Regions from separate parts of the Homo sapiens genome. Here region 1 is linked to region 2. Evidence: fine-mapped expression QTL. A gene starts in region 2. The other region holds a variant in brackets. All regions are shown on one strand. Distances are from middle to middle.

Region 1 (5,387 bases), 150 kb before region 2:
TACAATTAAATTTTAAAATAAATATTATTTAAATTAACATAATTATGTAAAACATAAATAATGTTATTAGATGTAAACAATAAATAATTTTCTAAAGTGATTTATCTCCTCCAATTTAACTTTTCAGCATTTTCCTAGAGTAGTATTTAGTATGCAGAAGAAACTCACAATGTTGGAATGGACTTTCGGATAGTGATTTTAAAAAAGCATACATGAGAAATTTTGTCAGTGTTCTGAATAGAATATTATGGTGGTATTGATACTTGCAGTTGTCATATGAACTCCCCTTAATAACATTTTAAGAGGAATTTGAACACTGGCCTTCCCCTGGTAAATAGGTCTCTATAGTAAGCTGTATTCCTGACAAAAGTTCTATACCTGCGTCTTCTGTCTGCATTTGTATCATTGAAATGATTTCTTGTGCTCAATCATAAGCCATATTTTAATGGTCACTCTATCATTTGTCCTGCACAATCACCCACACAGTTATTATATCAGCTCCTTCTTTCTACATCTCCTCTTCTACTTCTTAACATTCATTACTGTCTTTCCATTCTCATTGTGCCTTTTTAGATGTACTCCTTTATGCACTTCATTCAGCCTTCCACTCCTTCCCACTCTGTAAACTCTGTTCTATCAGTGGTCACCACGTATAGCTTCATCAAGTTCATTTGCTTTACTAAGTCCAGATAGATCCTCATTGAATGTTCTGCCATTTTTTACTTCACTGATTATCTCTTTAAACTATCTCCTTCTCAGCCTCTGTCCTCTTCTAACTCTTCTGAATATGGCTTTTTTCAGAGCTCTCTTTTCTCAATGTGCTCTGCACATTGGCCAGGTCATCTTGTCTCAGGTTTTAATTGATAGTGTTATGGGCTAAATTTCCTTGTACATTGAAAAAATTCCTATGTTGAAGTCGTAATCCCTAGTACCTCAGAATATAACCCTGTTTGTGGATAGGATCTTTAAGGAAATAATTAAATTAAAGTAAGGCCATTAGGGTGAACCCTAATCCAATAGATTGGTGCCTTATAAGAAGAGAAAGTCTGGACAAAGACAGGTGCAGGGGGAAGACGATGTGAAGACACAGGAAGAAGACAGCCACCTACAAGCCAAGGAGAGAGGCCTGGAACAATAGTTCCCTTACAACCCTCAGAAGGAGCCAACACTGCCAATACCTTGATCTCAGACTTCTAGCCAAAATAAATTTCAGTGTTTAAGCCATCCAGTCTGTGGTTTTGGCAGTCCTAGCAAACAAATACAGATGGCCTCTCAACAGATGACTTACAAATCTGCTTCTGACCCCCCAGTCTCTTCTGAGTTTTGGATCAGTATTCACAACCATCTATTGAATATTTCCATCTGTATGTTTTATAAGAAGTTTAAATACATATGTCAAACTTTAAATAATTATCTGCACCAGACCTGCTGCTCTTCTTTACTTCTCAGTATATCTCTGTACCCAACAATCTAAGCTTAAAATCTCACAATTTTATTGAATGTATAGTCTTAATTTTGATGTTAAAACTGAAAAGGCATGATGTAGCAATGTTAAGTGGAAATGAATGGCTTTTTTCATTATCTGTGAATCATTTATATTTATTAAACCATATGCTCTAGTTGACAGGCTGGAGAAAATCAACAACTAAAACTGAGATGAGAAGCTCAGACATTTGGGAAATGTATTATCAAATGTTTTCAGGACAATTTTAGTTCATTCAGTGAAAGTAAATTAGTTTGTTTCATCTTTAAATTTAGAGACATAATGTACTAAATAAATATGTAAAACATAAAATTATATTTTAAGGAATTATTATACAAGAAATACCCATTTACCCACCAGCTAGGTCAGGAAATAGAACATTTTCCAGCATCTCAGAATCCTCTACCTGCCTACTTCTCAATTGTAATTCTTTCCCTTCTTTATAGAAATAACCACTCTCTTAATGTTTCTATTTTTCATTTTCTTACTTACCTTATAATTTTACCACTTATATTTATACATCCTTAAACAATCGAGTTCAGTTTTGATTTTTAATTTTATGTGAATGGAAGCATACTATATAAATTCTTTGCATTGTGTTTCTCTCACCCAACATTTTTTGTGGGAGTCATCCATGCCTTTTCTTTTTATTTTCTGCATTTTCACTTTAGTGTGTCAATGTGGGGATGTCCTAATTTATCTTTATTTGGAGTCTCAGTTTCTTGTATGTATGCAAATTGGTATCTTTCATCAGTTCTAGTTATATCCTAGTCATTATCTCTTCAAACATATTTCTCCTCTATATTCCCCTTCTCTGGCATTCCAATCAGACATAAGTTAGACATTATTACTCCACCTTGAAGAGTCTTGACTATTTGGTTTACATTGTTCATCTCTGTTTCTGTCCATGTTGCATTCTAGAAAATCCTTTTTGCCTTATCTTCCAGTTAATTAATTTTTCCTTCATCTGTATCTAAAATGCTATGAACTCCATATATGATATTTTAAATTATACATA[T/C]TATATTTTTTCTTTTTAGAAGTTCTACTTGACTCTTTTTCAAATCCCCTTAATCATATTTATAGCTTCCTGCCCGCTGAAGAAATGTTCAAATGTGTCTTTATTTCAGATCCTATGTTTCACCTTCTGGTATTTGGACTCTTAGCTGTTTTTTTTCTGCTCTTAGTTGATCCTGAAGCATCTCTTTCACGTCGTCATTTTTCTCTTAAGCTTCATTTATTTGAACTGTACATTGTACACTGCTTATTGTCTTTAGAAAGCATATTATTTGAGAAATATTAATAGGATAAATATATATTTCATTAGAGAAGATTTAGATTTTCTTATCCCAGGCACCTAACTACTAATGGAACTACTTTCAATAATAAACCTCTCAATGTTTTTAGAAACATCTGTGATATAAATTTGACCTGTAAATCTCTTGTGACTTCAGAGTTACAATGACTCAGATGCTTTTCTTACCACCTTGCTATGCTCAACACCAAGACTATTTTACTTTGTGCAGTGAGGGACTGTAAAAGTGTGGCATGGGTGAAATCTGGTCTACCATTCTAAGAATAGCAGTTATGCATCACTTAACAACAAGGGCACTTTCTGAGAAATGTGTCATTAGGCAAATCCATCTTTGTGCAAAGATCATAGAGCGTACTTACACAAATCTAGAAGGTATAAGTTACTACACACTTAGGCTATATGGAATAAGCTTTTGCTCCTAAGCTGCAAATCAATACAGCGTGTTACTGTACTGAATACTATACGCAATTGTAACACACTGGTATTTGTGTGTCTAAGCATATCTAAACATAGAAAAGGTACAGTAAAAATATGATATCAAAGATTAAATATGGTACGCCAGTATAGGGCACTTACCATAAATGGAGCTTGCAGAACTGAAAGTTGCTCTGGGTGAGTCGGTGAGTGAGTGGTGAGTGAATGTGAAGGCCTAGGAAATTATTGTACACTACTGTAGGCCTTATAAACATTGTATACTTAGGTTACACTAAATGTATTTTAAAACAATTTTTTTTCTTTTTTCTTTCCATTTTTATTTTTGGAGACAGAGTCCTGCTCTGTCATCCAGGCTGGAGTCACAATCACAGTTCACTGCAACCTTTGCCCTTCACCTCCTGGCCATAAGCAGTCCTCCCACCTCAGTCTCCCAAGTAGCTGGGACTACAGGCCTGTGCCAACACACTCAGCTAATGTCTTGCATTATCGGTAGAGATGAGGTTTCACCTTGTTGCCAAGGCTGGTCACGAACTCCTGGACTCAAGAAATCCTCTTTTCTAAGCCTCCCAAAGTGTTGGACTTAGAAGTGTGAGCCACTGCACCCATCCTATTTTTTTCCCCTTAAATAATAAATTAAACTTAGCTTACCGTAACTTTTTTCTTTATAAACTTTTTAATTTTAAAACTTTTTGATTCTTTTGTAAAAACACTTAGCTTAAAACAGAAACATATTTTACAGCTGTAAAAATATTTTTCCTTAGATTCTTATTCTATAAGCTTTTGTCTATTTTAATTTTTTTTTAACTTTTTGGTTAAAAACTAACACAAACACAAACCATAGCCTAGAGTACTGCCTTCTGGGACAACTCCTGAAGGATCTGCCTGAGGCTGTTTTACAGTTAACTTTATATATCTATATATATACATATATATACACATATATATGTGTATATATGTGTGTGTGTGTGTATATATATATATATAATGTTTTGGTCAATGATGGACTGCATATACAATGGAGGTCCCATAAGATTATAATGAAGCTGTGTATATATTTATATGTGTGTGTGTGTGTGTGTGTGTATATATATATATATATATGAAGTACACTCTAAAATAGGCCAGGCACTGTGTGGTGGCTCATGTCTGTAATCCCAGCATTTTGGGAGTCGAGGCAGGCAGATCACTTGAGGTCAGGAGTTTGAGGCCAGCCCAACCAACATGGTGAAACCCCATCTCTACTAAAAATACAAAAATTAGTCGAACATGGTGGTGCATGCTTGCAAATCCAGTTACTCAAGAGGCTGAGGCAGGAGAATCCCTTGAACCCAGGAGGTGGAGGTTGCAGTGAGCCGAGATCACGCCACTGCACTCCAGCCTGGGTGACAGAATGAGACCCTGTCTCAAAAAAAAGAGAGAAAGAATACACTGTAAAATAATGATTAAAAGTATACTGTAGTAAATATATAAACCAGTAATATCACGTTTATTATCAAGTCTTAGGTAATGCACATAATTGTAGGTGCTAAACTTTAATACGACTGGCAGTACAGTAGGTTTGTTTATGCCAGCATCACCACAGGCAAGTGAGTTACACGTTGTGCTACAATGCTATGTCACTAGGGGGCAGGAATTTTTCATCTTCATTATAATCTTATGGTACCACCATTGTATATGCAGTCCATCATTGACCAACACGTTATGCAGCACACGACTGTAGTTATTTTGGGTTTCAGCTTTTACTGAAGAGTCAATCTGTAATTAGTATCTCCACGTTTTATGTCTTCTATTCCACATATACCTTAAGTCCTTTGAAACCTCATCTCAATTTCACTAGAATCAATAAATGCCTTCACCAAGGCAATTATTTACACATGCATTTATTAATTTATTTATTGAGTTTTCTTTCATAAATACTGTTCAGTGCCACCCACACCTGAAGGAACTCATTTTCCCCAGCCACTGGGAAGGTTGTCAACTTACCTTACAGCCCTCTCCTAGAAATACCTCTGCTGAAAATGTGACCATGCCCAAGCTCACTCTGCCTTCTTCAGGCATCCCCCATCTAACAACTGGTCTACGTGGGTATAAAGACACTTCTATCATTACACAACACCCTTCTTTTCCCTGATAAACTTCCTTGCTTGAGGTCTTCTC
Region 2 (5,387 bases):
TTTCATATGATCCAGTAATCTCATCGCTGGGTATATATCCAAAAAAAGAACATCAGTATATCAAAGATATATCTGAACTCCCATGTTTATTGCAGCCCTGTTCACAATAGTTAAAATACAGAATCACCTTATATGTCTATCAACAGATTAACAAAGAAAATATGGAGGCCGAGGCAGGAGGATTACTTGAGGTCAGGAGTTTGAAACTAACCTGGGCAACATAGCAAGACTCCATCTCTACAAAAAGTAAAAAAAGAAAAAAAAATTAGCTGAGCATGGTGGCACATGCTTATAGTCCTAGCTACCTGGGAGGCTGAGGCAGGAGGACTACTTCAGCCCAGGATTGCAGGCCTGCAGTGAGCTTTGATCACACCACTGCTCTCCAGTCTGGGCAACAGAGTGAGACCCTGTCTCTAAATTAATTACTTAACTAAAAATAAAAGAAAATGTGGTATACATACACAATGGAATATTATTCAGTCATAAAAAATGAAATCCTGTCATTTGCAACAGCATGGGTGGGACTGGAGGTCATTAGGTTAAATTAAATAAGCCAGGTACAGAAATAAAATATTGCATAATCTCACTCATATGTAGGAGCGGAAAAGGTGGATCTCATGGAGGAAGAGAGTAGAATGGTGGTTACCAGAGACTGGAAATGAAAGGATGGGGAGGGATAAAGAGAAGGTGGTTAATGTGTACAAAAATATAATTAGATACAAGCAATTAAGTTAATATTTAATAGTATAGCAGGGAAATTATGGTTAATAATTCATTGCATATTTTAAAATAGCTAGAAGAAAGAAATTGCAACGTTGCCAACACAAAGAAAAATGTTCGAGGTGACGGATATTCCAGTTACCCTGATTTGAACATTACACATTGTATACATGTATCAAATAGCATATGTATCCCCAAAATATATACAACTATGATATATCCAAAAAAGTAATTAATTACTTTTAAAAAAACTCTTCCTTATTTTCCAGCATACTTTGCCTCTGGTACTCTCTAGGCAGAAATACTAAGTGACACTCATAACTACTCCGGACAAGTATGCTCAGGCTTGGGCAATTTCTAAAATTAAGAATTAGGAAGTATGTTCCAGGCTCCCCTGGGTTGTCAAGTATAGCACTGCCTTATCTAGACCCTGCAGACCAAAACGCCTACCCAGGATCTGACTGTCCTGAGCAGTATCAAGCAGGAGTGACTCTATCAAGTACAGAGTCTAGGGAATGAAGGTGGCCAGAATCAGGCACTTCTGAACACCAAAGCAGAGACAAGTAAGAAGGGATGACGTGGGTGCAGAGCAGGAAGCACAATAGGCCAGTGCCCAAAAAGTGACTCATATTCCACAGGCAAAATTCCGACTTTGAGTCTTAAAAGAACAGCATCTTTATTATGCCTCCATCTTTTCTTGGTTTGGTTTGATAGCAGCGTGAAAATCTATAATAGTCAGATGGAAAATATTTCACAGTTGAAAACAAATTAAAATATTTCTTCCAGATGTAAATGTCCTCATATCAAAGAAGCTAGATGGTTCACCCAGACTAGATACAGCTAGATACAGAGATAAACATCAAGATAAAGATAGACCCACACCACTTTAAAGATTGAGATGCCTCATGTCTGTCAAGCCTCTCAACCATTAAGAAACATTGGCTTTCTGACTGCACCTCCAAGGAGTTCAAAGTCCAATTCTCTTTCTCTGCATGAGTTAACATGCAGATGACAAAACTGATTTCAGTTCCCCAAATCTCTAAGTGCTCCGAAGGAAGTTATCACCTTGGCCTATAATTTTGTTTTGACTGTAAATCATTCTTAATTACCATTTTTAAGGCCCCCTTTAAAAAAAAATCCAAGATACATAGCAAATTTCTGGGTTTCCTATGGTACAGATTGTAAAAGTTTCACTTCTACATGCATTTTATATGACAACAGTTGCAAACTATGAGGGTCTCATAAGACATCACTTTCTTTAGATACTACAAGGTATACTACAACTAAAGGCTAGAAATCTTTGAATTTTAAAAAGTGCTGAACTCTACAAGAGTTTGCTAGTGACAAAGTTGCATTTTATCACTATTAATTATTCCCCTTTTCCAAACTATTCATAATCTTCTCATCTAGGACATGCTCTGTATTGGGAAGATACTTGGAATAGTCAAGTCTAAACACTAATGAATTCATCTTGCCAATAACGAGACTAAAACCGAACCCATTTTTATCCTCCTTCTACCACCATCCATACTGTTGGTTTTATAAAGTTACTTCTTAAAGACACTCAGGGAACACATACTGGGGCTCTTCATCCCGTTTACATTGCGTAATGATTTAACAATATTCCCATCTTAAAATCACAGTCAGAGGTTCCTCAAGCCAAATTTTGGGAATAACCAAGAACTCTCGGCTATATTAACATTGCCAGTAAAACGTCTCCTTCCAAACAGAAGGGAGAATGAGTTGAAGTGAAAACAATGCCTTTACCTGCTGCACACTCGCGACTCTCATATAGGAGTCCAAGACGATCAACAGAGGCACATGGATATTTTTGCCTTGAAATAACTTGGAGGCTGGAAAACAAGTGGGTGGGGAAAAGAAGCAAAGTCACAATCCACAGCACCCCCTCTCCTTTTTAGTCTGAAACGGGGAGAAAAGTCAAAAAGGTGAAGACCTTCCTGAAATTCTCAGCTGCTTTCTGCCCTAAGGAAAGGATATGGGAGTTTGCGGCTCCTTAAGAGTCCGGGTTTGAGCAGGGTCAAGGGGAGGAGGACAAAATTTGCAAATGTAAGGAGGGGGAGAAAGTTTGCAAAAATAAAAGCACAGTTTATTTTCAAGTGATTACCGCGCTCGGAGTACGTGAACACCAGCAGATCCTCCAGGATTTGGACCAGCGTTTCTATCTGTTTTCCTTCCTGGACATTGTTCAGCCTGACTATCAACTTCTTCAGAGTTTCCTCGTCCTCTTCGCACCCCTGACAGCTGCCACTAGCCATGGTGGCACCTGCTTCCAACCCGCCGCCCTCCCAGCATGAACGTCCGCTGCTCAGGGAACCGGCAGGGGCGCCGGCCACAGCTCCCCGGGGGCGAGCTCAGCTCACCGCCCGCAGCCAGCGCTCCCCGCGGGCCCCATCGGCGCCCACGCCCGCCTGTTTATGAGGAAGGAGGCAGCTCCCCGCCCCGCGTTGCCCTCCCTCTCCGGAGCCCTCCTGCTCGGCTTCCTCCTCCCCCACTCAGGCCCCAAAAACGAGCTCAGGGGCCTGCCAGAGGCTCCGCCGAGGCGACGGGCCGCGCAGAACTCTGGCGGCGGCCGTGGGGCTGCTGGAGCCGGGCCTGGCTGGGATGACCGTGACCGTGGCCCCCACGCACGCCTAGACCGGACCCCGGGCGGACGCCGCCTCCTGGGACCAGATTCCACCGCAGCGGCGGCGCGGCCGGGAGTCGCGCGGGAAGAAACTGACTCAGCGGACTCCGCTGAGTCCACAGGCCCGGAGCCCCGCAGCGGAGGCGCGCAGTGCGCAGCCCGGCCGGCCACCCTCCGCGACCCGCCAGCCGGGGATCCTGCGGCCCCACGGAAGGTCTGGGAACTGGGAGCAGGAAAAATGAAAGCCGCCTATCTCCAGATCTAAGAATAGAAATCAGGGCGCTGGGAAAAGAGGACACCGCCCAGATGGCCCCTTTTAGGAATACATTGTCTTTAGAGTTCCACCTATAGGGAGATGAGCAATTTTCCCCCAAAGGATGGAAAGAGGGGTTAGCCATCAAAACTGCCCCCGCTACTCTTTTTTATGATTTTTTGTGACTGTTAGTGGGAGAGGAAATAAACATTGTTTCCCTGTGAGTTATCTGAAGCTCTGGTCACCAAAAGGCCACTAAATTAACTTTTGGAAATTTGAGTTGCACTAGGCAGGATCCTGATACTTGGGACACCCGAAAAGTAATCAGCTCTCAGAGCTATTAGAGCTGAGACAAAGGACAGGGTACATGAAATGAAAGGTGAAAAGTTGAGAGAAGCAAACCTAAATACTCTTCTCTTGGTATTCAGAAATACTTATGAGTATGGGTGTCTATAACCCCAAAGTTTTTTGGTTTTGTCTTTTGATTGTTTGTTTGTTTGTTCTGTTAAGTACCTAAGTAATGTGTTTTTAGGAAAAGAAACCTAGCAAGAACATTGTAGACAAGGCTAGGCAAAGATGATCTATCCTTCAGGTGATGTGTCTGTCCTCAAGATCACTTACAAAGAAGAGGATTGGACTGGAAGTTACTACTTCACAATTTTAGTTTTGTTTTCACATCTGTTACTTCAATCCTGATGACAATTCTGAAATGGATACAACTACTACTATGTATCCTTCTTTCACTAGTGAGGAAATTGAGATTTGGAATTGAGAAGTGAAGAGCTTTGCTGGAGTCACACAGGTGGGAAGTTGAGAGCCAGGACTTCAACCCAGCAAATCTCCTAACTCCAGGTAGAAGGTTCTTCATGCTCTACCACTTTAATAAGAATGCTCTAGACTTTGTTAATACATTAGATTAGTAAGATAGCAAACTCCTACTCAACCTGGATATTGGGTCTATGTCTTGTTGTTATAGAGTCTTTAACTTTTACAGAGACATGCTAAAATATTTATAGTTGAAATGGTTAGGATTTCTTTCAAAGTCATCCAGTGGTGGAGGAAAAGATGAAATGTGTGGAGATAGAGATAACGATAACAACTTTTGAATTGATAATTGTTGAAGATAATATGAGATGGGTTCATGTGGTCTGTTCTACTATTGTATCTATATAAAATTTTCCATAATTTAACAAAAAACTCCCAATCTTACAATATTTATCAGACCTACAGTGTATTATTTTCTAAGTTGTTTCTAAACTTGTTTCCATTTCTGATGACTTAATCAATGTCTCAAACATTTCTAGGCATTCTCCATCTCATGCATTCCTTCTGTTCCTCTGCATTAGTTTCTCCCTTCCTGTTCTACTGAATTACAACCTTGCAAGAAATTAAAACCTACCTCCCTTCCAAAGAAAAATAAATCTAAATTAAAAGATGTCTCCTAATTTCCACAATTCATTCATCCATCTATTGCCTATTTATTATCTACTCTATATTGGCCAGACTGTGAGTAGACAGTGTGAAAATATGAATTATTTGTTGGGAGCATTCTCCCATGAACTACTGCAGTGTTAAGGTAAAGTATTCTCTTAGTTTTCAAAAATGTTTAATTGATTGACTGAAATTCCAAGATTTATCAACTCTTCAAGTAGTTAACAAGACTGAAAATGAAGATTAAGGCATGAATTTATGATGGAAGCAGGGTTCAGTGGAGAATAAAATGGTGCTAGAACATTTGGCTAATTTCCTGAAAAGAAAAAAAATAAAACT

The links. PIP is the estimated chance that this variant, and not a neighbour inherited with it, causes the effect. A credible set is the group of variants that fine-mapping cannot tell apart.
Region 1: its variant is the best candidate, but not a certain one, in a credible set for the expression of LRRK2 in gastroesophageal junction (GTEx, PIP 0.82).

Annotation. Positions count from the first base shown.
Region 1 is chr12:40,374,744-40,380,130 of GRCh38, reverse strand. All of the region lies in intron 5 of LOC105369736 (a long non-coding RNA gene), which reads left to right. Among named protein-coding and RNA genes, the nearest start is that of MUC19, 16 kb to the left of the region's middle. The variant T/C (reference allele first, on the strand shown) is at 2,502.
Region 2 is chr12:40,222,741-40,228,127 of GRCh38, reverse strand. It overlaps LRRK2 (leucine rich repeat kinase 2), which reads right to left and starts at 3,131. Exons shown (of 51, transcript NM_198578.4): 1 at 2,846-3,131; 2 at 2,488-2,573. The coding sequence starts at 2,996. LRRK2-DT (LRRK2 divergent transcript) reads left to right here and starts at 4,306. Exons shown (of 9, transcript NR_186757.1): 1 at 4,306-4,469. It overlaps LINC01779 (long intergenic non-protein coding RNA 1779), which reads left to right and starts at 3,225. Exons shown (of 1, transcript NR_186584.1): 1 at 3,225-5,052. RefSeq lists an enhancer at 1,718-1,807 and a silencer at 3,006-3,365.